Linked DNA regions of Homo sapiens. The protein of the gene in region 4 purifies or fractionates together with the protein of the main gene of each other region. This does not show direct contact. Each region holds a gene or a part of one and is shown on either strand. Other genes may lie near its edges. The genes, in order: CPVL, NCK2, NCK1 and TNIK.

The links.
Region 1: the proteins of TNIK (region 4) and CPVL purify together in Homo sapiens (affinity purification with mass spectrometry; 2 studies listed by BioGRID and IntAct, with this or other methods). This does not show direct contact.
Region 2: the proteins of TNIK (region 4) and NCK2 purify together in Homo sapiens (affinity purification with mass spectrometry; 5 studies listed by BioGRID and IntAct, with this or other methods). This does not show direct contact.
Region 3: the proteins of TNIK (region 4) and NCK1 purify together in Homo sapiens (affinity purification with mass spectrometry; 3 studies listed by BioGRID and IntAct, with this or other methods). This does not show direct contact.

What each region holds. Positions count from the first base shown.
Region 1 is NC_000007.14:29,143,528-29,151,519, reverse strand, and holds the start of CPVL (probable serine carboxypeptidase CPVL isoform b precursor), read left to right. Parts: upstream 1-4,982; 5' UTR 4,983-5,091; exon of another isoform or gene 5,092-5,399; intron 5,400-7,992. UniProt on the Homo sapiens protein: May be involved in the digestion of phagocytosed particles in the lysosome, participation in an inflammatory protease cascade, and trimming of peptides for antigen presentation.
Region 2 is NC_000002.12:105,887,895-105,894,777, forward strand, and holds the end of NCK2 (cytoplasmic protein NCK2), read left to right. Parts: intron 1-5,087; coding exon 5,088-5,282; 3' UTR 5,283-6,378; downstream 6,379-6,883. UniProt on the Homo sapiens protein: Adapter protein which associates with tyrosine-phosphorylated growth factor receptors or their cellular substrates. Maintains low levels of EIF2S1 phosphorylation by promoting its dephosphorylation by PP1.
Region 3 is NC_000003.12:136,857,909-136,865,219, forward strand, and holds the start of NCK1 (SH2/SH3 adapter protein NCK1), read left to right. Parts: upstream 1-4,299; 5' UTR 4,300-4,445; intron 4,446-4,540; exon of another isoform or gene 4,541-4,843; intron 4,844-5,237; exon of another isoform or gene 5,238-5,261; intron 5,262-5,403; exon of another isoform or gene 5,404-5,525; intron 5,526-7,311. UniProt on the Homo sapiens protein: Adapter protein which associates with tyrosine-phosphorylated growth factor receptors, such as KDR and PDGFRB, or their cellular substrates. Maintains low levels of EIF2S1 phosphorylation by promoting its dephosphorylation by PP1.
Region 4 is NC_000003.12:171,457,397-171,464,491, forward strand, and holds the start of TNIK (TRAF2 and NCK-interacting protein kinase), read right to left. Parts: upstream 3,010-7,095; 5' UTR 2,668-3,009; coding exon 2,611-2,667; intron 1,996-2,610; exon of another isoform or gene 1,822-1,995; intron 776-1,821; exon of another isoform or gene 550-775; intron 1-549. UniProt on the Homo sapiens protein: Serine/threonine kinase that acts as an essential activator of the Wnt signaling pathway. Recruited to promoters of Wnt target genes and required to activate their expression. May act by phosphorylating TCF4/TCF7L2.

The DNA.
Region 1 (7,992 bases), on a different chromosome or scaffold from region 4:
CACAGGGCTTGCTCAGCTGTCCTTAGTGGCCATGTCTATATTAATCCCATAATTTATCCTTAAATCACCGAAGTCTTATTTGCCTGGCTTTTTCCATAGCCGAAGGGAAACTGAAAATATGCCTTTTGTAAGAAAGCCTTAACACCTGCTGCTAAAGGGCGCTAAACCATCTGGATCGTCAAAGGAGTATAGGCTCACTTACAAAAGACGTAGATTAATTTGGACATTGTTTCCCTACATAAACCAGGCATAAGGAGGCAAGCAACCCAGGGAAGGATAATCATGCTAAGAGTGGAAGCACTTATTAGAAATAATTACCATGTAATTATCCACAACTTCCCTGGAGTCTGTAGCCTGTGGCTAGTCTTAGGAGGTGCCCCTTCCTTACCAAGTACAAGGAGACTGAAGCACTTCAATAAGTTGATCAGGGCATGTGTCTGTGTCTTAGAGCTTGGTTACCGCCACCTGGGCCTACTTCTCACTTAATGAAGCCTTCAATGCTTATAGCTGAGGTGCAGAACAGCTGTAGACTTTCTTCAGCTGGATCTACCACCCACCCCTCCCTTTTTTAATAGCACAGTGTTGTTTTGCAAGTGTGTGGGTGTGACACATCTGGCTTCGTTCCTTAAGAAAAGTGTTTATTGAACAATTAATTGTGGTGCATGGGGGCTGTGACATTTCTCTTTTCGCTGTGCCTCTGAGCTGTGTTTCCAGGCTACCCGGTGGCCCCATTGAAGATCAGTAACAACACTGAAAAGGAACAATGGCTATAGAAGCCTTGACAAGTGCAGGGAGAGACCTAGACACTTCCAAGAGGGGCATGATTGCCTACAAGGTTAATCAATTCCCCTTGTTTCCATTGCAGCTCCACATTTATCTTGCTGGCAGCAGCTGCAAATGTAAAATCAGACCTACAAACTTAGACAATTGGAATTGTATTTACCTGATCAAGATGTGTAAATGATCTATTCTCTGTGTCTTCTTAACTGGAATTTAAGGAGTTCAGCAAAGCTCCGGCTATAGGTCAGTGAGAAGCATGTTTTTGTGTGGTGTCCAGATACAATTTAGTTGTCTTGGATAGACAGTTGGAAAGAACTGCAGTCACAGCCTAGAATCTTGATTGTCATGATCACCATTATTATTGTTACAGCTGCCATTTTTTGAGCCTTTATATATGACAAGCACTTTATATGTACTACTATCTTATTTCTTCCTCTTGATAATACCGCAAGATAGCTAATAGTATTTTTATCATGTACAGATGAGAAAACTGAGATTAAGTAACTTGCTTATGGTCATTAGGTGCAAGGTTCTAGATTCAAACTGAGTCTGACCCATGCTCTGAACCACTAGGGCTTAACAAACCCAAACCTCACTAGAATATGCAGGTGCAGAGAACACAAGGGCTTGTGATCGACCTGACAGTTTTAAATCTTGTTTTCAGGAAAGCCAATCAAAGAAGGCTTAACGAATCTCTTTGCAAACCGATTTGTTGGCCAACCTTTGAATATTCTCAATACAAGAGAAGGGCTAAAAATATCTATTGCAGCAGTGAAGTGGCCTTATTTTGAAAATGAGTCTTCATAGAAGTAATCAAGCTAAAATGAGGTCATTAGAGTGGACCCTAATCCAATGTCATTGGTGTCCTCATAAATAGGTGAAATTGGGACACAGAGACAGACACATGGAGGGGAGACACTGTGAAAAGACACAGAGAGAAAGCCCTGGAAGGCTGAAGCAGAGATTGGGTTGATGCTGCCACAAGCCAAGGAACACCTGGGGCTACCAGAACCTAGAAGCAGCGAGGAAGGATCCTTCCCCTCCAGGTTTCAGAGGGAACCTGGCCCTGCTGGCACTTTAATTTCAGACTTGTAGCCTCCAGAACTATGAGACAATAAATTTCTACTGTTAATAGCTGCTCAGTTACAACCTCCCTGGAAAGCACATACTCCTGTCCTATGGTTCTATTCTGTTCTGTACTATTTTGTTCTATTTTATTCTCTTTCATTAAGAAAATGGATTTCCAGGCTGGGCACGGTGGCTTACACCTGTAATCCCAGCACTTTGGGAGGCCAAGGCAGGTGGATAACTTGCGGTCAGGAGTTCGAGACCAGCCTGGCCAATATGGTGAAACCCCGTGTCTACTACAAATACAAAAAATTAGCTGGCTGTGGTGGCGGGTGCTTGTAGTCCCAGCTTACTCGGGGGGCTGAAGCAGGGAATCGCTTGAACCCGGGAGGTGGAGGTTGCAGTGAGCTGAGATTGCGACATTGCAGTCCAGCCTGGGCGGCACAGTAAGACTCTGTCTCAAAAAAAAAAAAAAAAAAAAAGGGAAACAGACTTCCCAATCTACTAATTTTGAACAACATCAGTCTCTAGAGCTCAGCATTCTTGCCCTTTCCAAGCTGGCTCCAGTCTAATTTTCTAACCTCAGTATTAGTTAACCCCCGACCCACCCTGAACACGCCTGGTGTCGCACAGTCCATCTGTCCAAGAGCACAGCATCAACCTGAGTGCAGGTGGCCTGCTCATTGCCTGTGCTGCCACCTTTCCCCTCAGTGGCTATTCATTTTTTAATGTCTAGCTTCAAGTCACCTCCTCTGACAGGATTCCCCTGGCTCTTCGGGCAGAGTCATTTGGTCCCTGTCCTCTGTTCCCCCACACACACACTTTATCAGCCCCAATTACAGCTCTTATATTGTATGATGGGATCAATCTGTGTGTCCCCTTCATCCCTTCCCCACAACTAAACTTCAAGTTCCCTAAAGAAGACTATCTTTTTTCTTGTTTTTTCTTTTTAATCAAGTGTCTAGCACAGAACCTGACACACGACAAATCCGAATACAGGGTACCCCAAAAAGGTCAGTGCAGTTTTAAGCTTTAATAACTTCTTAAGTCGAAATGCTACAAACTTACAAAACTCATTTGAACGTTTACTTCTTTTGACTCTGTTTTAATTATTTTAATAAATGTAATTTTCTCTTCTGGTTAATGTATGCCATATTTCACTCAGGGGAACTGAAACAAAAATTAAAGTTAAAACGTGTTATTCAACATTCACAGAGATAAATAGTGTTAAATTAACTTTCAAATGGTGTTCTTATAAGTTGCAGCATTTATAGCCTTGAGGTTACTAAAACTGCAGGAAGACTTTTGGGACACCCTGTTTTTGAATAAATATGCTTACAGCATGGCTCCTCCTGTGTTTACTGTAAAATTCAGTTTAGTTTTTAAGTGGTTCCACGTGGGCACAGGTATTCTTTGGCCAGTAGTTGTCCTTATACTTAGACCCAAGGAGCCCTTGTCCAGGGCCCACACTTTAGAAGGCAAATTCCAAATTCCCTCCCCAAATGGCACTGAGCCTGCTTCAAGGGTCTGCACGCCAGCAGCAGTGTTATCTGCTAATGTCTGTACTCCCATGGGCGAACATTGCTGACTCTGGTGTTCATACTCTTGTGCCCAAGAGGTGGCTGGGGGACAGCTGCTTCTGGGAAGCTTGACCGAGCTTCCACCAATGGACTAGAGCCCTGTGGGAAGAGAGGAGGTGGCTGCAAACCAGGAACTGGAAATCGCCTCTCCCTGCACCATCATATTTAAGTGCAGATCATCCAAAGTTTCAATCTGGCCTTTCATGTCAATTCCCAAGGTATATTTGTCTAGGTAGGAAGGTAGAACTTATTGTACTTAATCATTTGTTAACTTTGTTTATAACTTTTAAATATTTAGGTATCTGGCCTACAGATCTCTGTTTGTACTTTTGCCCTGGGTCCTGCATATATTAAAGGTGGGCTGATTTTGGCCTTAAAAGAATTATTTTCCCACAAACAGATTTTTCTCCTTAAAGAGCTAGGTGGGTAGGAAGTACTTCCATATGGAAGGTATGATAGCAAAGAATGACTGCAGTCACTGAGCACATACTTTGTGCTGGGTGATTTACACATAGTTTTTCAGTGAGTCCTCACAACAACCCAATAAAGTAGGTACTTAGGAGAAAACAGATATTCAGTGACATTAGTTTGTTCCAGCTCGTAAAACTAGTGCTTTAGTTAGCCTTAGTTGCATAACAAACTACGCGAAACTGAAAGTGGCTTAAAACAATTTTTCCCCCTGACTGTCGGGTTGGCTGGGCTGCTCTACTGCGGGTTTCCCTGGGCTCACTCCTGCAGCTAGCTGTGAGGAGATGGAGGTTGGCCCGGGACAGTGCAGAAGATTCCCCGTGGCCTCTCCCACCTGTCTGGCAGTTGACGCTGCTGTTGCTGATAATGATGACCCTCCTTTATTTTGTGTTATCTACTTGCCATTGCAACCTCCTTGCCTTTTTTAGTTCTTGCTCCCGTACTGTCTGGCTCGATGCCCAGCACCTGGTGGTGGCTAATAATATACACTCAGGTCACTTACAAGCAATGTGACCCTGGATGGGTTACTTAACCTCACTTAGTTTGTGTCCCCCAATTGCAAAATGGGTATAATGGTACAGAACACATCAGGTGGCTCTGAGACTCCAGCGCAGTGATTCAGGAGAGTGCTTGGCAGGACAGTGGCACTTGGTGCGAGCTTACTGCTAGTGCAGCTGGAATGTAGACCATCAGCGAACGTGTGTTGCCTTTTTAAACAGTGGGAATCAAACACCACTCGCTTTCCAAATGTAAATCCTGGGCTTGCAAGTAAGTCCTAGAGTGCAGAAATAATTTCAAAATACAGGGTTGAAATTTTAAGATAGCAGCTTTTAAAAACTGGGAGACAAAATCAAAATAAAACAAAGGGACAAACCAACCTGAATGGCACCCCGCCGATGCTCTTCATTAATTTTTAAGATTCCACCCTGGGGCTGCTTGCTTCTTCCAGCATGGGAAGCGCTGACTTGATGCGGCCAGGTTTCTGGGACCAGGAGGTTGGGACACGACGACGCACTTTTTGCCCTGTGGGTCTGGGTCATGTGAGCCTAGAGGAGCGCTTAAAGGCTCGAGTTCTGCAGGGTCCTCGTGACTGGGTGGGGCTGCCTCACTTCTGCCTGATTTGGGAAGCGCTGCAAGGACAACCGGCTGGGGTCCTTGCGCGCCGCGGCTCAGGGAGGAGCACCGACTGCGCCGCGTAAGTGCCGCCTGCCCTGCGTGGGTCGTGCCAGCTCAGCGGGACAGGTCCTCGCCTCGGTCCCTCGGACTTAGGGAGCGCGGGGCAGGTAGTCTCAAAAGCCCTCAGCACCAACAGGGGAGAAAGCACCGTAGAGTGAGACTGGAGTGGGGTGGTCGTGGCCGAGTCAAAGTTCAAATTGGAGCATTGGGGATGTACTGCGTGCGCCCAGCCGAGGGAATACTCTTGAAGTTTCCTGGCACAACTGTCGCACCCGGGGTTCTTCCAGGCTAGAAGCCGTCTCCTACTCCAGGAGCTCCTCCGGGGAAGTACGAAGCTGTGGGGTCCTCTGCCGCTCTTAGCGCGGGAGGGTGGCGGGTGCAGGACACTTTCCCTTACTCCCTCAACGCGTGTTTTGGGGATGTGTTGATTTCGTGGGTGCTCAGAAGCAAGAGAAGCGGAAAATACCTTCTATTTTGAACGTGCCCAAAGCAGGGAAACTTGGCTTCTGCCTAGGAACGCATAGGAAGACTTTTATTCTTGGAATGTAGGATTAGCAGAAACCAAGGGCACAGGAGACAGGTGGAAGCAGCTCCCTGTGAAGTGATACAGAAACAAAAGGACTTTGGAATATTTGTGGATTTAAATCCCAGTTCTGGCCTTGGCTAGTGAGTGACCTCGGGCAAATTATTTAAGCCTACTAAACCTCAGTCTTTCCATCTGAAAGATGGAGATAATAAGTTTTTCTTTTTAAAGAATTGTTTTATTGGAAATAGAAATAACATACAGAAAATGCCTCCCTAGCACGGGACTTGGCTTTTCAGCTAAGTGTAATTTTCCTTATCAGTTATGATTGATGATGAAGTCTATGGTGAAGACAGAACAAAATAATGTTTAAAACTCTGGCCATATAATGACTGTGGCTATGCATGACCCGTGTGCAGTCACCTCTGAGCCCCCCACCTTCACTGCAACCCCAGTGGGTCCCAAGCAAGGTGCTTGGGTTTTGGAGCTGGACAATTCTGTGCAATTCCTGGTTCCGGTATCCACTACTTGGATGACATCAGGGACGTAACTTATCTTCCACAGCCTCAGTTTTGGCATCAGTAAATGAAAAAGGAGCCCCTCAGTACTTGCCTTTCCCTTCCCCGGCTAAATGTACAACTCATTTTTTTTCCATTCTTTGCTTTGGGATGAGTAAGAACAAAGATGTAAGCAGAGTAAAAAGTCCATTGAGAATACATTTTATTAGCTTGGTAAATAACGTTTAAGAAAGTTGTCCAAAAGGAGAATTGGAGCACTTTTGGAAAAGTACACTGCACCGGCTTTGTTGGCATATGAAAGTCTGCATGGTCGTCAAGACCGTTTGGCTAACTGGGCATTCTAGATGTGTACCTCATGCTAGTCTAAGTACAGGGGCAACCCTTTATAATGTAGTGTCAGTGTTCTTAACCAGATGTTGTTTTATTAATCTTTTATAGGAGATGATTGTTTGGGAGGGGCAATTGATCCCCCAATTTATATAAATCCAGTTTATAAATCACTTTATAGTGGGATTCTACTAGCCTGAGAAATAGGTGGGTTTTGACTGACAGTTTGAATGACTTAGAAGAGTGTTAAGAAAGTCCACTGGGTTTACCAGTTCACTCCCCACAAAAAATAAAAACAAGAAGCAAATAATATAACAGAATTCTAAAAATGAGTTTGTTTTTGTTTTGGGAAGCATCTAGTTTGTCAGAGGAAACACTGAGTGTTGAATACTACCCTGGGATGCACAGAACTAAGGCAATGAGAGGGGAGGAACTCAGTTCTTGCCCCAGGTATCATCAGATATCTGTTTATTAGCACCCAAATACTCAAGGTAAATAGTAATGACCCATTCTTTCTTTTTTTGAGACAAGAGTCTCACTTTGTCACCCAAGCTGGAGTGGCACCATCTCTGCTCACTGCAACCTCCATCTCCCGGGTTCAAGGGATTCTTGTGCCTCAGCCTCCTGAGTAGCTGGAATTACAGGTGTACACCACCATGCCCGGCTAATTTTTGTATCTTTGGTAGAGATGGGGTTTTGCCATGTTGCCCAGGCTGGTCTCGAACTCCTGACCTCAAGTGATCCTCCCACCTCGGCCTTCCAAAGTGCTGGGATTACAGGCATGAGCCACTGTGCCTGGCCAGTGACCCCTTCTTAATAGGAAGTATGGTTCACTAAAGAGCAAACATGATTGTTTTAGTTTACCATTTCCGATGGCTTTATAATGTGAGATTTTCATTGACTGAACTAAGAACATTTAAAAGAAGTAGGCAAGCTTCTCAGAATTAGAAAGATACCTCTAGAACAATGACTCATTAACGTCTATATTGACTTGTGAGAGAGGTAAGCTGGGCAAAAAGCTAAGAACTGTACTTTCCTGGTAAAAACAGTAGTGGAGTTTGAACTTTTATACTATATTTGCAAGCTCAAAGATGTAAGCCTTAATAGACAGTTCACAAGACAGCTGTTACAGCGTATCTGAACTGAAACCAGGGTATTGAGATTGCTCTCCCTTAAGAGATATTAGAGGTATAACCTTGAACATGAAATCACATGCTTTCATTGCTTTAACTCAGACCCTGGGGTGCAGGACAGGGTGGTGGTAGTGAAAGAGGGGGAAGGACTGTGTCCTTAGATCTTGGAGCCTGAAAAAGCAAATTCTTAGCAGCTTATCTTTCCAATATAGTTGGAACTTACCTCCTACCTTTTTCTCTCTAGTCTGATTCTAGTTATTGGTTGTCTTTAAATTGCTTAGAATTGTTTACAGGCCAAAATATTTACTTTGAACCCTAAAGGTAAGCTCTTCCTCCTTTCCTTTTTGGGACTCTGTATCCCATTACCCCTCTTTCAAAAAGATAGTGCCACATATCTTTTTGTACTGTATGATTCTTGG
Region 2 (6,883 bases), on a different chromosome or scaffold from region 4:
AGTACCCACTTATCGCGAGCACAAATTGCAAAGAGATGAGGTGTAAGAATTACCTAAAGGAATGAATAATGGAAGAGGTAGTCAAAATTAGAAATTTTTAAGTCTGCACGTTTGTTGAACACCAGATACTCTGAGCCCGGTGTGGGGATGTGGAGCTAAATAGGGTTCTTGCACTTAGTTGTATTCAAACACAGAATCTAAAGCCTAAACAAAAATAATGATGATAGAGGCCCCGAGAGAGGTTGGTTTTCCGCCAACCTATTAATTGTCCTTAGATTCCACTTGGAAAATGACTTCTGAAAAGAAGGGTCAAATGAATGGGTTGTACTAATTGTTCATTCTCCAGAACCATTGATTCAAAAACTATGAGAATGGAAAAATCATTCCTTATAAGGAGTACTCATAGAAGGACATAACAGGAAGAAGTGGTCTGATGTTTGAAAATTTGAAGAATTTGCCCAGTAGTCAGCACAGAGAAATTACTATATACCAAGTAAGTACAGTGTTTGGAGATGGAAAGTGTAGGAAATGCGGACAGTGGGAGGTAGCACAAAGGTGGCAATTAAAGAGGAGAAATCAAAGGGGAGATGTTTCAAAACCCGGGGACTGAGTCTAGTTAGGTTTTAGTCCAATCATAGAAAATTGTAATGAGTGTCCTGTCCATCTATGATGGCTTAAAAAGATGTCCATAAATTCTTTGGTACTCTTTGCTTCAGAAGGTGGAGCCTGACCCTCTTCCCTTCAGCATGGGCTGCACTGAGCAACTCACTTCTAATGACCAAGATGTGGCAGAAGCGATGGAGGGCAGCTTCCGAGATGGGCATTGTGGCTGCCTCTTTGCTCTCTCTTGGGTCACTTGATCTAGGGTGAGCCAGCTGTCATGTTGAGAGTACATTCAGGCAGCCCTACAGAGCCCCCTAGGGGTTCATGTGAGCAGACTGCCTTGGAAGTAGAGCCTGCATCCCCAGTCTAGCCTTCAGATGACTGCAGCCTCAGCCAGCATCCTGACTGCATGTTTCAAAAATGTGTTAAGATTCTTTGACAAGCTTAAATGTAGAGTACTCTACCATACTATCAGTACTCTAGTACTTGTTGAGGAGCAAGTGTGGCATGGTCCTTTTTCATCCAATTTCTTGAAATCTGTTCTAGAAAGCCAACCGTGGAAGGACTGCAACAGATGAGAATAGGACTGATGGAGTTGCTTTCATGGGAATCATTCCCTGGCTCCCTCTGGAGGCAGAGTTGTTTTGGGTCGGGAGTAACTCCATCTCCATCAGATGCAGGGACTGGTGGCTCACTTTGAAAGGAGGAGACCATACAGCAGTGTCCCAGCTGTCCCTTCAGGGGAAATTCCCTATGAGAGATGTCTGGAGCAGAGCCAGAGTCCTCAGGACAGAATTGGAAAAGTATCCACAGACTGGAGCTCCCTCCATCATGGGCTGCTTTGCCCATAAATGGCATTCCCATCTTTTTCTGGTGACCAAACATTTGTTGGTGGCTCCAGCACTGCCGATGTTTGTTCCAGATTTTCTTTCTTCCAGTTCTCAAACTGCATCAGAGTCCCCTGAAGGGCTTATTAAAACACACGGTGCTGGAGGTTAAAACACAGATGGCTGGGCTCCACCCCAGAATTTCTGCTACAGCAGGGTTGAGGCAGAGCCTGAGAATTTGCATTTCTTTTTTTTTTTTTTTTTTTTTAATTATTTTGAGATAGGGTCTCACTCTGTCATCTAGGCTGGAGTGCAGTGGCCCTGTCATACCTCACTGTTGCCTTGACCTCCCGGGCTCAAGTGATCCTCCCACCCTGGCCTCCCAAGTAGCTGGGACCACAGGTATGCATCACCACACCTGGCTAATTATTTTAAATTTTATGTAGAGATAGGGTCCCACTATGTTGCCCAGGCTGATCTCAAAGTCCTGGCCTCAAGTAATCCTGCCACCATGGCATCCCAAAGGGCAGGGATTACAGGTGTGAGCTTCCATGGCTGGCCCTTGAGAATATGCTTCCTAACCAGTTCTCAGAGGATGCTCATGCTGCTGGTCTTGAGAGCACACTTGGAGAACATCTTAACTAGTTCATCTTCACACTTCACTTAGAGGTGTTCAGTGGTCATATGTAACGGTGTATGTTAGTATACAGATTGTTCTTTTTCAGATTTCCTACAGAAAATCTACTTAGTTTAAATTAAAGAACACTCCCCAACTTTTAGCACTCCTGCTTGGCATAAATTGGTTCTACATCCTTAACTTTTAAAGGTTTCTGCTCAGGAGCCCACGAAATTAAAAATTACCTCTTCTGCTGCGAAAATTTTATTGCTGCAACTCATGCATGCATACAGGCACACACACACCATGATGTTAAATTAAGGAGCTTGAATTAAAAGCAAATTTCCCTTATGTAGAAAGTCATCTGTTGATCATTTGGCTTAATTAAAATTGGGTGTATCTTACATCTACCATGATTCACTCCCATACTGCCTCCACTAAAAATGATGCCACATTATCTCTAAATTGAGCCTGGCTTATAGTAAACTCTATAAGTGAGACTGCCCTTCATCTTTTCCTAAAGATACAACTTCTAGTACAGAATATTAATCATCTATAGGCTGAGGCCTAATCTGAGATTAACCTTCTGGTTTCTTCCTGGAGTTTCATCCAGGAGTATGCCCTGGGCCTCACATGGGGATGAGATGGGGCTTTTCGCCTCAAAGGTTTGTTCTTATTTGGTCTATTTGAGACAGAGGCATGCATAAATACAAACTATACTTACAATTGTTCCTTTCATTCTTTTCTGTTAACAGCTATGGCTGCTGGGTGAGCCCAGCTGCCTTGCACAATTTGAGTCTTCTCAGACACTCATTCCCCTGAGTTGTCATTGGTAGAAATGGAGTGATTCCTTGTTTTGCAAGGGTTGCACACTTCTCATCAAACATTTATTTGGGCTTTTGTGAACTCTGTAATAGACAATGGCCTAGTCCTTTGTTAACTGTCTGGAGGTCCTGCTGGGAGGTCGCAGAGCAGGGCTGAGCTGCTGGACCCTCAGAGCAGGAAGTTTCTGGGCTTTGAGAAAAGCAGAAAACTGGTCTGGGAATTCCAGGAAGAATTTCGGATGTTAGGCTGTGGTCCTGCCACTGGCCAGGCATGTCCGAGGTACCAGCCCTGCCTCGGAGAGCACATGCTCAGCTCCACATTGTCCAGAGGGCTCTCCTGCCCCCACACGCACTTATACATTCACACAGATGAACTCACACGCTACGCATACTCTCACACACTCTCAATACTCACATACTCCCTCTCACATCTGCGCACGCTCACACACTTAGAGCTGCGGTATCTCATGCTCCTCTTTCATGCAACTCTTTTTTTTGTTTGTTTTCTTTTTTTTTTTCATAGAACTTACTGCCCTGTGCAGCCATCTGTACACCTCTATTTATCTGTTCCCCACACCAGATTGTCACAGAGCATATGTCCTGCATGCACACACATGTATCCAGGGCACCGCCTGCCTGGCATGTGTTAGTAACTAATTGTTATTCATTTAATGAATTGATCAAAACTTGATATTTTTGTACAAAGAACATTTATCGTTCAGTATCTTCTTTCCTGCATGCTTTTCAGCAAATGAGATAAAAGACCAATTTTTTTTTTTTTTTTTTTTTTTTTTTTTTTTTTTTGAGATTTTTCGCTCTTGTTGCCCAGACCAGAGTGCAGTGGCGTGATCTCAGCTTACAACTTCCACCTCCCAGGTTCAAGCGATTCTCCTGCCTCAGCCTCCCAAGTAGCTGGGATTACAGGCACACTACCACCATGCCTGGCTAATTTTGTATTTTTTAGCAGAGATGAGGTTTCACCATGTTGGCCAGGCTGGTCTCAAAGTCCTGACCACAGGTGATCCACCTGCCTTGGCCTCCCAAAGTGCTGAGATTACAGGCGTGAGCTACTGCACCTGGCCAATAAAAGACACATTTTAATTAAAATAATGACATGTTTCTAAAATATTCTGAAATAGAAGGCACATCACAGAATTTAAATATTTTTCAATAAAATCTGTAATCAAACCATAGTTCAGCTTCCTCTGGGATATTGTGAACTATGTTTAAAATGCGACCGGAATTTTCCACTGCTGTTCATATTTTTAAATGCTTAGAATTAGAAAAATTAGCCAGGCATGGTGGCACATCGGGAGGCTGAGGCAGGAGAATCTGCTTGAACCTGGGAGGCGCAGGTTGCAGTGAGCCAAGATCACACCATTGCACTCTAGCCTGGGCAACAAAAGCAAAACTGCGTCTCAAAAAAAAAAAGAATTAGAAAAATTTTGATGTCTTAATTTCTAATAGGGTTAGACATCAGAAGTAGTAAAATTTCTAGCTACTGCCTGCATGCAAACCACTCTTAATAAATTCCCAGTTTATCAAAAAATAGTTTGGGAAATGAAAAACAGCAAATTTCTTGAGCAGTCAGGGCAACACTGTATATTCCATAGTGAAGTGCTGTATATTCCATAATGAGTTTGCACTTTTCAAATAACTAAAACGCATTTAGCACTGAAACTGGGCTAAGCAGAATTTATTTTTTCTTTGGTTCAGAATTTCAGAATCGTGGACTACCTCCAGGTCTTTCTGAACATCAGATGCCGTTCTAGATATAAAACAGAGACCCGGCTGGGCGTGGTGGCTCATGCCTGTAATCCGAGCAATTTGGAAGGCTGAGGCTGGGAGGGGGGTGGGGATCACCTGAGGTCAGAAGTTCAAGACCAGCCTGGCCAACATGGCGAAACCCTGTCTCTACTAAAAATACAAATATTAGCCGGGCATGGTGGCAGGTTCCTGTAATCCCAGGTACTCGGGAGGCCGAGACAGGAGAATCGCTTGAACCCGTGAGGCGGAGGTTGCAGTGAGCCGAGATTGGGCCACTACACTACAGCCTGGGCAAAAGAGTGAAACTCCATCTCAAAAAAAAAAAAAAAAGCAGAGACCCAGTGTTTGAGCAATGGGTGGTTTGGATTTAGACGCACAAGAGATGTGGATGGATTTAGACACAGCTCCCCGCTGTGGCCCGGCTGTAACTGTGTTCTGTTTCCTCCCCAGCCCAGCGACTTCTCCGTGTCCCTTAAAGCGTCAGGGAAGAACAAACACTTCAAGGTGCAGCTCGTGGACAATGTCTACTGCATTGGGCAGCGGCGCTTCCACACCATGGACGAGCTGGTGGAACACTACAAAAAGGCGCCCATCTTCACCAGCGAGCACGGGGAGAAGCTCTACCTCGTCAGGGCCCTGCAGTGACGGCGCCCCGGCCCCACACTCGCCTCCCGGGCCCCACGGTGGAGCTGCCCGCCCGGCCTTGTGGCAGAGGCTCCTCCCGCGGGGACGGCCCCGACGGCTTCTCTGCGAGTCTCTCTTTATGTTCAGGTCGCTTGGTCGGTTCGTCTCCCATTTGCCATCCAGGCCTCACACCCACACTCGAGCCCACCCGGCCGGCCAGCTTTAGAGGAGGGGAGGAGCAGGGCGAGTTCACATTATTCCTTTTCCATCGGAAGTGGCGCTCGTGCATTCAACTCGTTCCCGCTCATGGAACCCCTCTTTAAAAAGACGCAGGGCACCTGTGAGCGCAGGAGCGAGCCTAAGGCCACCCAGCGGCAGCGCCCGTGTCCTGGGCACTCAGCGTGCTGGGCAGAGCAGGTGCGATGGCCCCAGTCCTAGCAGCCCTCGCCCATGTCCTGTGCCCTTACATGGCTCCCGGACTGTGCAGGGAGCCGATACGTTTGCTGATAGCAATACTGGAACCACCGGGTGCGATGGCAGTGAGGAGACTGCCCAGTGCCTTTGGGGCTGTGCTTGCAATAAAGAATTTCCTGGAAAGGCAGTCTGCAAAAGAGGGAACCGGTGACTCAGAAAGACAGATGTTTTGGTAATTTACCCCAAATGTGCCATCCACATAGTGCTTTTTCCTCTTGCCCTTCGGCTTGTTTGAATCTCACAATTATGTATTTAATTCTCAAAGAAATATGTATCTGTAGCCGTTTGTTGACACTAATACAGATGATTAAGGAAAACAGCTGATCTTTGGGGAAGGGAGCTACCAACACTTTATACACACACACACGTGCACACACACACACACACACACTATATATATATATATTATTTACAGGGAAATTTTTCAGGGTTTACAAAAGAGTATGTGATTGGTAGTAAGAGACACACAGAATGTTTATGAAGAAATTGCATTTTCTTTTTCCTTTACATTTGAACTTCTTTATAGTTTAAATATAACGTCTTGAGATGGCACATTCCTACGATTGAAGAAGGGGTCTTGAGATCCCCTAAACTTGCATACCCAGTTTTTTGGATATTGTAATAAAAAAAAGTATTATGACAAGGCTCTGTGTGTATTTATCTTTGGGAAAACTCAGACTCAATCATGGGAGAGTAATTACTGAAGCATTCACTCATTGCGGAGTGGAAATCATTTTTAGAGAAGAGCTTAACATTTATTACTTGTGTGTTTTCATTTTCTACCCCCACATTTTTGTATATTGAAATAATGAGTTTTAATTAGTGAAACCCCAAGGGAACCCAGAATCTCAAGCTTGGTCTGAACTTTGCTCTTTGGAAAATATTTGTTTAGAAATATGTTGCTGAACTCTTGGCAGCCAGCGCTCTCACACCATGTGTCCCCCACGACTAACTCTCGATTTGTCCTCTTGATCGGGAGCATTTATATTGATGTGCCAGGCCCTGGGGGTGCAGAGTCACATGACTTGGCATTTGTGCCCTCCTAGGCCAATCACGTATCAAGCGCTCCCTCTGCACCATGCACTGCGCCCCCATTTGTTCCTCATCACAGCCCCATGAGGTGGGACCTGCTATCATCCCCATTTTAT
Region 3 (7,311 bases), about 35 Mb from region 4:
GCCTATAGGATAAACTCTAAGGTGCCTGACTTCCATAACCTGGTTATTGATTATATTTCTAGCTATCTTCTGCTCTAGCAATATTCTACTATCGTTTAATACCTTTTTATTATGCAGGCTCCTCTATGTGGACAGATTTTTTCTAGTTAATTGCCTGACTAACCTGGCCACACAACTCCTTTCCCCTGTGGCTTAATGTCCTCCTTGCACTGGACTGTCTATAACAATTTCTAACTATAAGCTATCAGGTTTCTGGGAAAGGTCTTGACATGGAGGCTCATTTTTCCCTTTCTTGTGTTCCCAAATTCTTTTATTTTGGATTAATAAAGTAAGCCACCTGCGTGTTTTTAATCATAGACAGATTAGCTGCCCATATCCAAAGCTCCACGTGTAGTCCCTAGATAAGTTTTGTTTTTGTTTTGAGATGTGGTGTGATCATAGCTCATTGCAGCCTCAAATTCCTGGGCTCAAGCCATCCTCCCACCTCAGCCTCCAGAGTGGCTGGGACTACAGGCACATGCCACTATGCCCAGCTGATTAAAAAAAATTTTGTTTTGTAGAGACAGGGTCTAGCTCTGTTGCCAGGGCTGATCATAAGTTTTGACTTACATTTTCTTGTTGCCTGATTCTGGTTAGTCCCTGATCCACTCAGCACTAATTAGCAAGGATGATTCCTGTTTTTGGTTTGAGTTCCCCTGAAAGAGAGGAAGCAGCAGCCATGTGCATGTTTATATTTGGAAGCTGGGGAGACAGACTGTGTGAAAGGAAGTCTCTGGGACAGCTCCCACCCCATTAAAACATGTACTGCATCCCTTCTAAGTGCAATTACATACATGCCTTTCTGCCTATCTGCCCTTCCAGTCTATGCTTTCCTTTTTCATTGCTGTTTGCTTATTTTTCTTCTTTGACTCCTCTTTTGCATATATTTTTGGAGGTTTCTTAAATTTTTTTAAAGAGTTCCTGTTAAGAATGAGTGATGAGAAAGATTAAAGAAGGAAAATTAAGAGGATAAACTAGCTGGGTGCTGTGGCTCACGCCTGTAATCCCAACACTTTGGGAGGCTGAGGTGGGTGGATCACCTGAGGTCAGGGGTTTGAGACAAGCCTGGCCAACATTGTGAAACCCCGTCTCTACTAAAAATACAAAAAATTAGCCAGGTGTGGTGGTGTGTGCCTGTAGTCCCAGCAACTTGGGAGGCTGAGGCAGGAGAATTGCTTGAACCCGGGAGGTGGAGGTTGCAATAAGCTGAGGTGGTGCCACTGCACTCCAACCTGGGCAAAAAAGCGAGACTCCATCTCAAAAAACAAACAAACAAACAAAAACCCTAAATGTATGACTTCAGCATACTTTTTGCTGGGTTAATTTTCCCCACTTAAGGTGGTGGTAAGCTACATGAAGGCAAGAACTGTATTTCTGTATTTTACCTGTTGTATTTATATTCACACCTTCTGCCTCCATCGTATGTTAAATATGTAATTAGAATTAAAATTGAGTCACGCTGTGCTAACAGTTTGATGGGTGATTTTGCAGCAACAGTTTTAACTCTGGACAAGTTTCTTCAAAAATGAATATAATATCTCAGTCTGTAAACTTTATAAAATGTATCAACAAATAAAACCATTGTATTAGCTTGGGCTGCCATAATAAAATACTAGATTGGGTGGCTTACACAACAGAAGTTTATTTTTTCAAAGTTATGTAGGTTGGGAGGTCCAAAAGAGGGTGCCAGCATGGTCAGTTTTGGGTGAGGGCTCTCTCTCTGGCTTGCAGATGTCTGTCTGCTTGCTGTGTTCTCAAATGGAGAGAGCTCTCTGGTGCCACTTTCTATAAAGACATTAATCTTATGGGATTAGGGCCCCACCCTTATGACCTAATTTAATTTTTATTACCTCCCTAAAGGCCTAGCTCCAACTAGAGATGGTCCCTGACTTAAGATTTTTTTGACTTTATGATGGTCCAAAAGCCATATGCACTCTAGAATCTGTACTTTGAGTACCCATAAAACCATCCAGTTTTTCATTCAGTATTTAGTAGATTACATGAAATACTCAATACTTTATTAAAAAATAAGCTTTGTATTAGATGATTTTGCCTAACTGAAAGCTAATGTAAGTATTCTGAGCATGTTTTAGGTAGGCTACTCTAAGCTATGATGTTTGGTAGGTTAGAAGCATTAAATGCATTTCTGACTTAAGATCTTTTCAACTTAAGGTATTTTCAGTTTATGGTGGGTTTATTGGAACATAACCCCTTTGTAAGTTAAGGAACATTTATATAGTCACATTAGGAGTGAGGGCTTCAGTATGAATTTTTGGGGGGGATGCAATTCAGTCCATACCAGTCATGATAAAATATGCAGTTATTTAAACCCTTAGAATAAACTCAAAATTCACCGCCATTATTCACTTTGGATGCTAATAACAGAATGTAGACATAGAGTAGCTGTTGCCCAGTTTCATGGTCTACTTGTCCCAGTCAACCTGAGGATAGTACAGCATAAATAGGTAAATTTGTGCTTGACCTTGTGATCCTACATATGGCAGGCTGTCTTAGTCCCTTTAGTGTTGCTAGAAAGGAATACCCAAAGCTGGATAATTTAGAAATAGAAAAGGTTTTTCGGCTTATGGTTCTGATGTCTGGAAAAGTTCAAGACTGAGCATCTGCATCTGATGGTAGCCTAAGACTGCTTCTACTCATGCCAGAAGGCAAAGGAGAGCTGGTGTGTGCAGAGATTACATGGCCAGAGAGGACGCAAAAGAAGAAAGGAAGTGCGACGTTCTTTTTAACCAGCTCTGGTGGAAATAAAGAGAACTCATTTACCCTCTCCCCAGGGAGGACATTAATCTATTCCTGAAGGAACCACCTCCATGACCCAACACTGCCCATTAGTCCCCACCTCCAACATTGGGGATCAAATTTCAACAGGAGGTTTAGGGGAACAAACATCTAAATTACAGCACAGGCCAACCACATGCATGCATTACCAATCACGTAAATAATTTTGAAGTTAAATGCAGAAAACTGCAAACTTTTGAGGCTGATATCCAGGGCCAGGATTAAAATAAAAAGTATTAATGCCTTAAACAGTATTTACTGACCATCTACCCTACTGCAAGGCCCTAGGGAGAAACTGAACAGACATGGTTACTGATTCAACGGAGTTTACAATCTAGGTAGACATACAGGCAAACCATTTCAATAGCTCGGATGGAGAAAACACCTGTGCTCCAAGGAAGGTACCTAACTGAGCAAGCTTCCCTGAGGAGCGATCCTAAACTGTGCCACAAAGATGGTTAAGAAGAGATGAGGCGGCTGGGCGTGGTGGCTCACGCCTGTAATCCCAGCACTTTGGGAGGCCGAGGCTGGCGAATCACGAGGTCAAGAGATCGAGACCATCCTGGTGAAACCCCGTCACTGCTAAAAATACAAAAACATTAGCTGGGCGTGGTGGTACATGCCTGTAATCCCAGCTACTCGGGAGGCTGAGGCAGGAGAATAGCTTGAACCCGGAGGCGGAGGTTGCAGTGAGCCGAGATCGTGCCACTGCACTCCACCCTGGCGACAGAGCGAAACTCGTTTCAAAAAAAAAAAAAAAAGAGGCAGGTTACGGCGCGGGGGCGGGGAAGGGGGCCTGCAGCACCGGCGAGGGGAAGAACCAACTTACTGATGCCTCAGCCAGTGGCTGGAGCCCTAAGAATGGACAGACCTGGCTCCGAAGGTCCTCTTCATAACACTACTGCCGCCAAGAATGTAAGCTGCCCAAGCACGAGGACACTTTTAGAGGGCCCTCAGACTCAGCTTCTTTTGGTCTGTGCCTCAAATTAAGCACATGTCTTACATTTCTCCCAGGTCCCAATTTTCAGGTCTGCTTTTCTTTGTTTTTCTTTGTCGCTCCCCGCTCCTAAGAACCTTCGGCTGGGATGACATTCTTCAGGTGCAGAAACCAGGGGGAAGCTCCCAGAGCAGTGGGGGCTGAACTCAGGACACAGTCATTTTTGCTGTTAAGTCTCTCCTGCGGCGCTGAGGAGGCAGGCTCAAAGTAACCAACCAGAGCAGCCGCAGAGGGAAAAGCTAAGACAGTTCTGGTCCGGCCCAGCGCTTCTCACCCTCTAGCTCTCTACTCTCCGCCGCGCAGCCTCCGCTCCCTCCACATCAGGCACGGCGCTTGATTGACATGAGGGCCCGCCCAATCCCAGTGCGGCAGAGACCGTTGTCGCGTCAGGGACCGGGGAAGGGGGCGACTGAACCTATCAGATTGGGTCCAGAGTGGGTTTCCTGCCCGCGCGGATCCGCCTGCCCACCGCGCGTGCCCCGCCTCTCTCCCAAGAGCTACGCGGCGGCGGCGGAGCGCAGGCCTCGTGCCGTTACGGCCATCACGGCGGCCGCAGTGGCGTCCTGGAGCCCTCCTCAGGTGAGCTGGAGCTGCCCGGCTCGGCAGCGGGAAGGTGAGACGGCCTTGTTGGCAGGCAGACACACACACACCCCCCTTCAGTCCGCTGTCCGTCCATACAGCCTGTTACTCGCTGCGTCGCTTCCTCTTCTCGCGCTGAGTTAGCCCCGGGGGCGCCGTCTGCAGGCTCGGAGCCGAGCCGGAGGGGGCGCGGAGGCTGCTCGGAGGGTCCAGACTTCTGCACCGGGATTCCGCGAGACCCTCGGGCCGTTGCCCCAGGGAGCGTGACCCCGCGGCCTCCTTGTCAGCCCCTGGAGCGCTGTGTCGGGCTGAGAGCCCGGGCGGCCGCCCGTGCGAGCCTGGGAGGTCGAGTGTGCGGCGCGCTGGTTGACTTGTCTGTTTTCTCATGAAAAAGTCCTTTTGCCAGCTGTGGCGTAATCCGAGGCCGGGAAGGTAGGGACGTGGTAGGAGGAAGGGCGCTCTCACCTCCAGCCCGAGAGGAGGGGAGGCGTCAGCCTGCGCGGTGCTGCGGGTGGACATCTTCGGGACGCGCCCTCTCCCCTCCCCCCACCCACCGGCCGTTTTCTAGTCTGGGGCTGTGACTTTAATGGTCTGGACCTGCTTCAGATTCGTACGCGAGTTGCTGGGGCTGTGAACTTTTGACTTGAGTTGTAATATGTTTGGTAAAACAAAAAACCATTTCGATAGGTTTTGTAACCTTTCTTCTGTATTAACATACAAGTTAAATTCGCCGTTAGAAGCTCAGGAAGCTGGGTTTTGTTCAGGGGTGAGGACGTAACCGTAGGAACGCTCTCGGTGTCAAACTGATGGACCCGGAGTCACCTGAAAATAATTATGCACGTTAGATTAGGTAAGAAGCCCTAGAAATTAGGAAAGAATTAGGTTAAAGAGAATTTCCTAACTCCTCTTTGGGTAGGGAGCAAAGCAGCTCAATGTCCTCCCAAAACGGGTGTTGCCAAAAGGTACTCATTTTTAAAATTTTACTTTGATAGACGTATGACAAACCAACTATAACGATTTCTTCAGCACCTGGAAACCAGTGTGCCTAGACTCTCAGCCTTCGGCGAGGTCACACAGTAAACGGAGAAATAACCTAAGAAGAAAGTTTTGTTTGGTAATTGTCAATAATATTCGTTCTTTTCTTTTTAAAACACTTAATTTTCTTGTGGGGGGTGGAGTCTGTGATATTCTTAAATAGGCATCCCATTCACAACTTGATAGTAATATGCACTGGTTGATAAATGGTGCTTTCTTTTCATCTTGACCACAAACTCTGAGACTTCTTTGGGAAAATTGTGATCTGTGGAAATTGGCTGTAATATCCATAAACATAGTTTGCAGAGTGTTCACATCTACTCAGCTGTTGGCTCATGTATTAAATTTTAAAATGTGTACTTATTTTTCTAGGCATTATCTTTTGTCCAGGTTTTGACAGTGCTTTCAGGTCCATCTAAATAAAATTTGAAACCTACGTGTAATGTTTTGTTCGATACTGAGGGAGTCCAGGCGGGGTAGCTCAAACCTGTAATCCCAGCACTTTGGGAGGCTGAGGCGGGCGGATCACGAGGTCAGGAGATTGAAACCACCCTAGCAGACACGGTGAAACCCCGTCTCTACTAAAAATACAAAAAAGTAGCCGGGCGTGGTGGCGGGCGCCTATAGTCCCAGCTACTCGGGAGGCTGAGGCAGGAGAATGGCGTGAACCCGGGAGGCGGAGCTTGCAGTGAGCCGAGATCGCGCCACTGCACTCCAGCCTGGGCGACAGAGCGAGACTCCGTCTCAAAAAAATAAATAAAATGTGTATTTATTTTTCTAGGCATTATCCTTTGTCCAGGTTTCTGCAGTGCTTTCAGGTCCATCTAAATAAAATTTGAAACCTACGTGTAATGTTGGCCGGGCTCGGTGGCTCACGCCTGTAATCCCAGCACTTTGGGAGGCCGAGGCAGGCGGATCACGAGGTCAGGAGATCGAGACCAGCCTGGCCAACACGGTGAAACCGCGTCTCTACTGAAAATACAAAAATTATCCGGGCGTGGTGGCACGCACCTGTAATCCCAGCTACTCGGGAGTCTGAGGCAGGAGAATTGCATGAACCCGGGAGTCGGAGGTTGCAGTGAGCCAAGATCGCCACTGCACTCCAGCCTGGCAACAGAGCAAGATTCCGTCACACACACACAAAAAAAAAACAGAAACAAAAAAAACCTATGTGTAATGTTTTGTTAGATACTGAGGGAGACCAGGCGGGGTAGTTCAAGCCTGTAATCCCAGCACTTGGGAGGCCAAGGCGGGAGGATAGCTGGAGGCCAGGAGTTTGAGATCAGCCTAAGCAATGTAGTGATACCCTGTCTCTAAATTAAGAAAATATAAAAAAATTTAAAAAGGAAAATAATAAAGAAAAGAGATACTTAGTGATACTTCATGGTTCTGGGTTTTTTTCTTTTCTTTTTTTTTTTTTTTTTTGAGACAGAGTCTCTGTTGCCCAGGCTGGAGTGCAGTGGCACGATCTTGGCTCACTGCAACCTCTGCCTCCCGGGTTCAATCGATTCTTGTGCCTCGGCCTCCTAAGTAGCTGGGACTACAGGTGTGTGCCACCATGCCTAGCTAATTTTTTTGTATATATATATATTTTTCTTTTTCTTTTGTTTGTTTTTTTTTTTGAGACGGAGTCTCACTCTGTTGCCCAGGCTGGAGTGCAGTGGCGGGATCTTGGCTCACTGCAACCTCTGCCTGCCGGGTTCAAGCAATTCTCTGCCTCAGCCTCCCCAGTAGCTGGGATTACAGGCGCCTGCCACCACGCCTGACTAATTTTTGTATTTTTAGTAGAGGCAGGGTTTCACCATCTTGGCCAGGCTGGTCTTGAACTCCTGACCTCGTGATCCACCTGCCTCGGCCTCCCAAAG
Region 4 (7,095 bases):
TACATTAAAGAGCCACCGAAACAGCGAGGGACTGGTAAGTCTGCAGCAAATTCTCCCAGAAGCCACTGACCTTGGCTGCATTTCAGGGGTCAGGCATTCCCCAGGAGGGGCTCAGCAGGCAGACTTTACCAAGGGCTTAGGAACAAATGAGACATCTCATCTAGATGAGGCCACCTCTCCAAATGTGGCAAGGTGGAGATGATCTGCCCTCTGATTTGTGGAGATTACCTATGTGGCCTTTGGACCCACTCCAGCAGACACACCTCACCCACAAGACTGGTCAAAGACCCTGGCCCTCCAGGATATAACTGTCTCCACATCTGCATCTAAGTCTTCTAGCCAGCAGTTCCTGGTCCCCAAGCTAGCTGTTGCCCTCTCTGTTTCCACACCTCCCAGCAGGCAGAAAAACAGAAGCAGAGCCCTAAGCTGATAGCCCAGGCCACAAAGAGCAATTTCAGTGAATTGTGCAAAGATATATTTTCAAAATACAGATCACAAGAAAGCACATCCCAAGTGTGAACCGCAGTCGTCCGCCCAGTGGGCCCTCACCGGTTGCTCCCCTGCCTGCAGGCTCCGTGCTTGGTATCTCAGAAAACCTTCCCGAGGAAAAAGCCCATAAGGGACAAGTCCCGGCCCAACTTAAAATCACATCAGACTGCTTTCCAGTAGAGGAGCAAGGTCGAGATTCCGGCCCAGGGAAATCACCGCAAGCCCTGCGCATTGTTCAGACCCCTTCCCCCTTTGCCACTTCCCGCCCCCCACCCCGACCTCCGACCGATTCGCAGCACCCCACCCCCAGTCGGGGCCATCCATCCACCTGATTAACTCGCCGGCAGCAACTCCCAGCGTAGAAAGTAGGGCAAATGAACACACACAGTCGGTAAAGCAGGAAGCCACAGACCTGGCCAATGCACCCACCCTGTTACCAACCCCACCCCGCTGCGCAGGGGGCAGCCGGTTCTTGATGTGGCATTTCCACTCCAGGGAAATAGACAGCTTCCTGTAATAATGCATGAATGAGCTTTGGCTGCCCAACTATCAGAACAGCCCATTTCAAACGGCATCTCTGTTTCTTCTCAACTCCTTACTTGCCTTGCTGAAACCTCATCTCTTAGCCCAACAGATTAAGACGAAGAGAGAAAGACTTATTCAAAGAGATGTGGAGGAAAAGGTTTAATTAAGGAGACCAAAGAGAAAGTACCACTTTGATCACAAAGGTAGCACTTTAATATATCAGTGCAGATAGCGGCAATGTCAGAAGTACTAGGAATCCAGGTAAATGGCCCCAAGATTCAGCATCAATCTAACAATGTATTCCTCAGGAGGGCGTGTGAACTTCCATGCTTCATCCATCCTGGTGTCTCCCTGTAGAGAGCCACCATGAATTCCTTCTCATCCACCCTCCATACATCAAGTATATGCACTCGCTTTCTTTTTAATTTTATTTTTGGTTCGGGAGAGGAAGAAGCAGTCCTTAAATTGGTGTCCAATCCTTCTCAGACACCCGCTGCTGCCACCATCCCCACCCCTCACCCCCTTCCAGGCAGGCAGCATCTAATTAAAATGGCAAGAAAGCTCTGCCCCCTTCCCCAAAGGAGTGTGTTGGGATCGGGAGTTGGGGGTGGGGAAGCGTCGAAGCAGCACTTGGATTCCTGGTATTCTGATCTCAAAACAACAGCAAAATGGATTCTATATCAGTGATGTCTTAGTCAATACAATGAAACGGCGTCTGAGGTAATTCACGTGAAGGTAAACGCAAACCAGTGGGGCTGGGGGGAGGGAGGTGCTCTACAAAGGACTGGCCACAGACACGGGGAAAACACACACAGACACACACACACACACACTCGCACACACTCCAGGGAGTTCCGGTCTGATTGAGGAAAAGCAGAAAACACATCCCTTTCACCTGCTTAAGTTCAGCCATAAAACTGAAACGTTACAGCCACAAAGTCAGAAAGAACAGGCAGGGCTGAGTTAAAGCCATAAATAAAGGTGAGTGGCAGACTGGCATTTAAGGGAGCGCTGAGAGGGCGCCCGGGCGCGGGAGGTAGAAAAGGGGGAGGGGGAGGCAGTTGCCATCTACAAGACCAGCATAGCAATAACTGCCCCCTTGGAGCGGCAGGTTCGGCTTCGCGGGGACAGCCAGCCTCACAATGTCATCTTGCAGGTAGCTGGAAAACGTGAGGGGCCAGTGCCTTTATTCACGCTGGCATTCTTTTTGCAGAAGGGACAGTCGGGTCTCGCGCCTTGGCACCAGACAACTGCCCGGGGCGTGTACACACACACACACACACACACACACACGCACACACGCCTTTCATTTTAATGCTCTTACACCGGTATAAGATGAAACTGGCATAAGCTCTACGAGCCCTCGGGAGAGCCTAAGCCACGGCCAGAGGAAGACACGTACCGCACAGCCCCTGCCGTAGGGGCTCAGCCAGGAGCACCTCAGCAACCCCGAATCAAAACGGGAATCCAGGTTCCCTCCCCGACGCATTCTCCCGCTGCTGTCCCCCTGCCCCAGCCCCAGCCCCCAGTCCACGCACCGAGCCCATTCACCCTAACCCAAACCACTGGAAAGAAACCAGAAAACGTCCTGCTCACCCTCAGAGCCGAGAGATCTATTTCATCCAGGCTTCGAGCCGGGGAGTCGCTCGCCATGTCTACTTCTTCGCTGGAGAAATGGACCAAAACCACCCCGAAGCTTTTCCCTTGGAAATTCCACCTTGGTCTATTTCACTCGCGTCCTCATGCGGGTGTCGCGCCAGAGGCCCCGGGCCCAGCCTCCCCCGCCCACCCCAGCCCCACAGCGCCGGATCCCGATCCTCCGCGCGTCGGTCCGCCGGGTCCGGGAGCCCAGCCTGCGCGGATCTCCAAGCCCCGAGCAGCGGTGCGTGTGGGCTGAGCGCCCCGATCGGCTAAGGGCGCTGGGGCTGCGTGGGTGTATTTAAATGGGACATGCTTCTTTGCTTGTGCGTGGATGGCGGCTGCATTGGCTGTTATAATGAGACACATCAACTCCTCCACTCAGCAGGGGGAGGGTGGGGGTGGAGAACCACGCAGAACTGTCTATCACCGCTTCCTGGGAGGAGTGAAGGGGGAGTGGGGAGGCGGAGGAGGCGTGGTCTTGGACTGGGGAGAGGCCGCGCTTCCTGACCCGGTCCCTCTGCACCAGCGTGGAGGGGGGAGGGGCGCGCACCCTTTCCGCCCAGGCTTTTGCGGGCTCCTCGGGCCGAACCCGAAGGGGCTGTTCCTGAACCTTGACTTGTTATCATAGGGACCCAAGCTCTATTTTTGTGTGGCCAATTCGTGCACTGCAGCAAAATGGCCCTTCAGTCGCGTCTTGGGGTTTCTCCTCGGTTCAAATGCTCTCGCGCTGAGAAAAAGCCGGAGGAAAAAAAAGCGACACCCTCCCTCCCCCATTAATTATTTGTGGGGCCGGAGTAACGCGGGCTGGTGCAACCGGTGCATATAAGGACTTGTGTGCAAGGAAGGGGATCCGCCTCCAGGCGCGGAAAGAGTAGGGAAGAAGCGCACACGCACAGTGCACCCAGCTGGGCGCTTCGGCAGTTTGCAGCTGCGGCGGGGTCGGGTCCACCCGCGGTCCCCGGAATGCCGGACGGCTGATCCCGGGTGCTGGTCACTCGCCGATTCGGGGCTGGGAAGGTTTGCCAGAAGCGGGAAAGATGGGAGATCTGAGCGCTCTCTTGGCATCGCCACACCCAGGACTTGCTCGTGCCGCAATTCCCCACGGAAACAACCGAGTTGAAACGAGAAGCTTGCTCTCTGGGTGCAGTAGCTAGAAGGCTTCAGGTAACTCCAAAGCCAACACTGGGTGAGGCAACACACGCCGCCTCAGGACTCAGCATTTCTTTCAGGCTGCGTTTTCGTGGCAGACCTACCCAGATTGATGGAGAAAGTTTGGCTGGCGGATAAGAAGTAACGCGGAAGATGTGTACGTGAGAGCGATTTCACTTCACTCACTTTCTCATTTAAAGGTTGGATGTTTTACAGTGGTATACATGATTCTCCTTCTGTAATCAAGAGTGGGAAGTCGCTTCCCCCAATCCCCGCGCAGCCCTTCTTCTCCCGCCTTAGCCATGCAAAATACCTAGAAAGAAAACACTAAAACTGAACTTTTTTCCAAATACAGCAGTAGCTTTGAAAGCATTCTTTGCTCCTCTGTTAACAGCAGAATGTAATTCTGACCACTGCACTGATGGTTTCTTAATCATGCAGTATGAAGATCAGCTTCAAAATAAGTCTTATGAATGAATGAATGAAAGCCAGTGCAGTTAGTTCATCATGACTGCAGACATTAGAGGACTTTGAAACAACCTTTGGTGTACATTGTACTGTTTTTGTTACTGATATTGTATGTATTCATATGCATTGTGGATCATGCACCATGAAACTTGAAAATTGTTCCAACATCTCAATGGCCACAACAGTTTGGTAGCTTTTGCCTGTAAACGTTGTATGTAAACATTTGAACGTGTTATACTAAATTACTAAACTCATTTTTTACTAAAATCATCTGGTTCGACATAGTAAGTAACGTGCAGTAAGCCACCACGTCGAAATGAAAAAAAAAAAACAGATTATTTCCCATCATTGTCTTTGTTTTTTTCTCTTCTGTGTTCCTGTTTTTTTACCGTTCATCTAGACAACAGGTTAATGTATTGTCTCAGGGTTGAAAGAAGATAATTTAAGATCAAGTATTAAGATCTATAAACAACTATTTTTTTAAAACTGCAAACATAAGGAAATATGAGTTAAATATTTTTTCCATGGAAAGCCTTCGTTTTATACTCATGATTATATTTGAAACATCACAAACAGATCAACTTTTTTGACATTAGTGAGCTGTTTGGGCCACGAGGGTGCCAAGTTGGCATTCAGATTTAGTTTAGTTTTAGATGAGAAAGTTATAGATGCAGTATGATGCCAGGTGCTAAATGGAGGAGGGCTTCCTAAGAGCCTGAGAAGTTGATGAGACAGCCAGGGGAAGGCAGGGGTGTGGGCTGCAGGAAATACCATAAAAGGAGAGATTGCAGTATCAAAGGGACCTCCAACTGGTAAAGGAAGGTGAGAAGGAGGAACTTGAACTTTTTCCTTTTGGTCAAGTGTGTATCAAATTTCAGCTATTCCAGTATAAATTTCCTAATTTTTTCCTATGTCTCTGTATTGCCTGTACTATTTTACCACTTACTTAACATTTTTCTTTAAATCAACACTTTTTTCTTACACTTAATATAAAAGAAAACATAAATCACTACTCTAAATGGAAAGCCAACAACACTTGCTTTGAAAAAAAAAGGGGGGAGGAAACCATTAAAATAAATATAATGGAAAATAAAGAAGTATTATTAAATTCTAGCTAGCCATCAATTCCTGCTCTGGGCTTCTAGCCTAAGGCCTACTCTTAGTTTGTTAAAAGAGAGAATAGCAAATACCAGGAAAAACATTCAAGACTTGAGATTTTTTTCTTGATGTAATCTGAAGGATTAAGAGAACTGACACCATTTATGTGCAGTTTGAAAACCTGCCGAATAATACACTATGCTGTTTACATATGTATAAATATGTAGTAAACTATATAAAGCATGGATACAGGCAGTAAGGATACAGATTAACTTCAGGATAATGAGAAAAGAGGAAGAGGAAAAGGAGACTCCAACAATGATACCTAATTTTTTTGCTAAAGATTTCTGCCAGGCACGGTGGTGGCTCACACCTGTGATGCCAACATTTTGGGAGGACAGGTTGGGAGGATAGTTTGAGTCCAGGAGTTCGAGACCCGCCTGGGCAACTTGGTAGAACCCCATCTCTACAAAAAATACAAAAATTAGGTGGGCATAGTGGTACACCCCTGCAATCCCAGCTACTAGGGTGGCTGAGGTGGAAGAATTGCTTGAGTCCGGGAGGTTGAGGCTGCAGCAAGCCAAGATAAGCCACTGCACTCCAGCCTGGGCGACAGAGGGAGACCCTCTTTATAAAAATGAATAGAAAATTTGAATAATAAGTAATACTATGCTGCAGATATTTTTCTAAGCATTTGTTCTATCTGAATGTTTGTGTCTCCCAAAATTTATGTGTTGAAACCTAACCCCCATAGTGATAGTATTAAGAGGTGGAACCTTTAAGAGGTGATTAGATCATGAGGGCAGATCCTTCATGAACTGGATTAGTGCCCTGAGAAAAGAAGCTTGAGGGAGCCTGTTCGCCCTTCCACCACATGAAGATGCATAGAAGGGGCCATCTGTGAGAAAGGAGCCCTCAGCAGACTTCAAATCCGCTGATATCTTGATCTTGGACTTTCCGGCCGCAGAACTGTGAGCAATTCTGTTTCTGTTGTTTATAAATTACCTAGTCCAAGGCATTTAAGTAATTTAAGTAACATGGAGAATAAATCCAGAAGGCCCAATATTCATCTGATAAGGGATCTAGAGAATGGATGGAAGGAAATACTCAAAAAATGGTAGAAAATATTCCAGTATCTTGACTGGGCACGGTGGCTCACACCTGTAATCCCAGCACTTTGGGAGGCTGAGGAGGGCGGATCACCTGAGGTAGGGAGTTCAAGACCAGTCTCACCAACATGGAGAAACCCCGTCTCTACTAAAAATACAAAATTAGCCGGGTGTGGCAATGCATGCCTGTAATCCCAGCTACTAGGGAGGCTGAGGCAGGAGAATTGCTTGAACCCTGGAGGTGGAGGTTGTAGTGAGCCAAGATCGTGCCATTGCACTCCAGCCTGGGCAACAAGAATGAAAAAAAGAAAATATTCCAGTATCTTTAAGTAAAAAGCTCTCATTTAGCTCTGAGCCAAATGCATAGGTAAAAAATAACACACTTAAACACCTCACAGTGAGATTTCAGAGCATGAAGGATAAAAAGTAAATCTTAACTGGATTACCTTCTCATCAGCAACAATGGATGCTAATAGACAATGGAACAGTATTCTAAGGAAATCATTGTAATGGTGTTTTGTCTTGTTTTGTTTTGTTTTTGAGACACAGTCTCTCTCTGTCACCCAGACTGGAGTGTGTGGCTGGCTCATTGCAGGACCTCAGTGAGTTCAAGCTA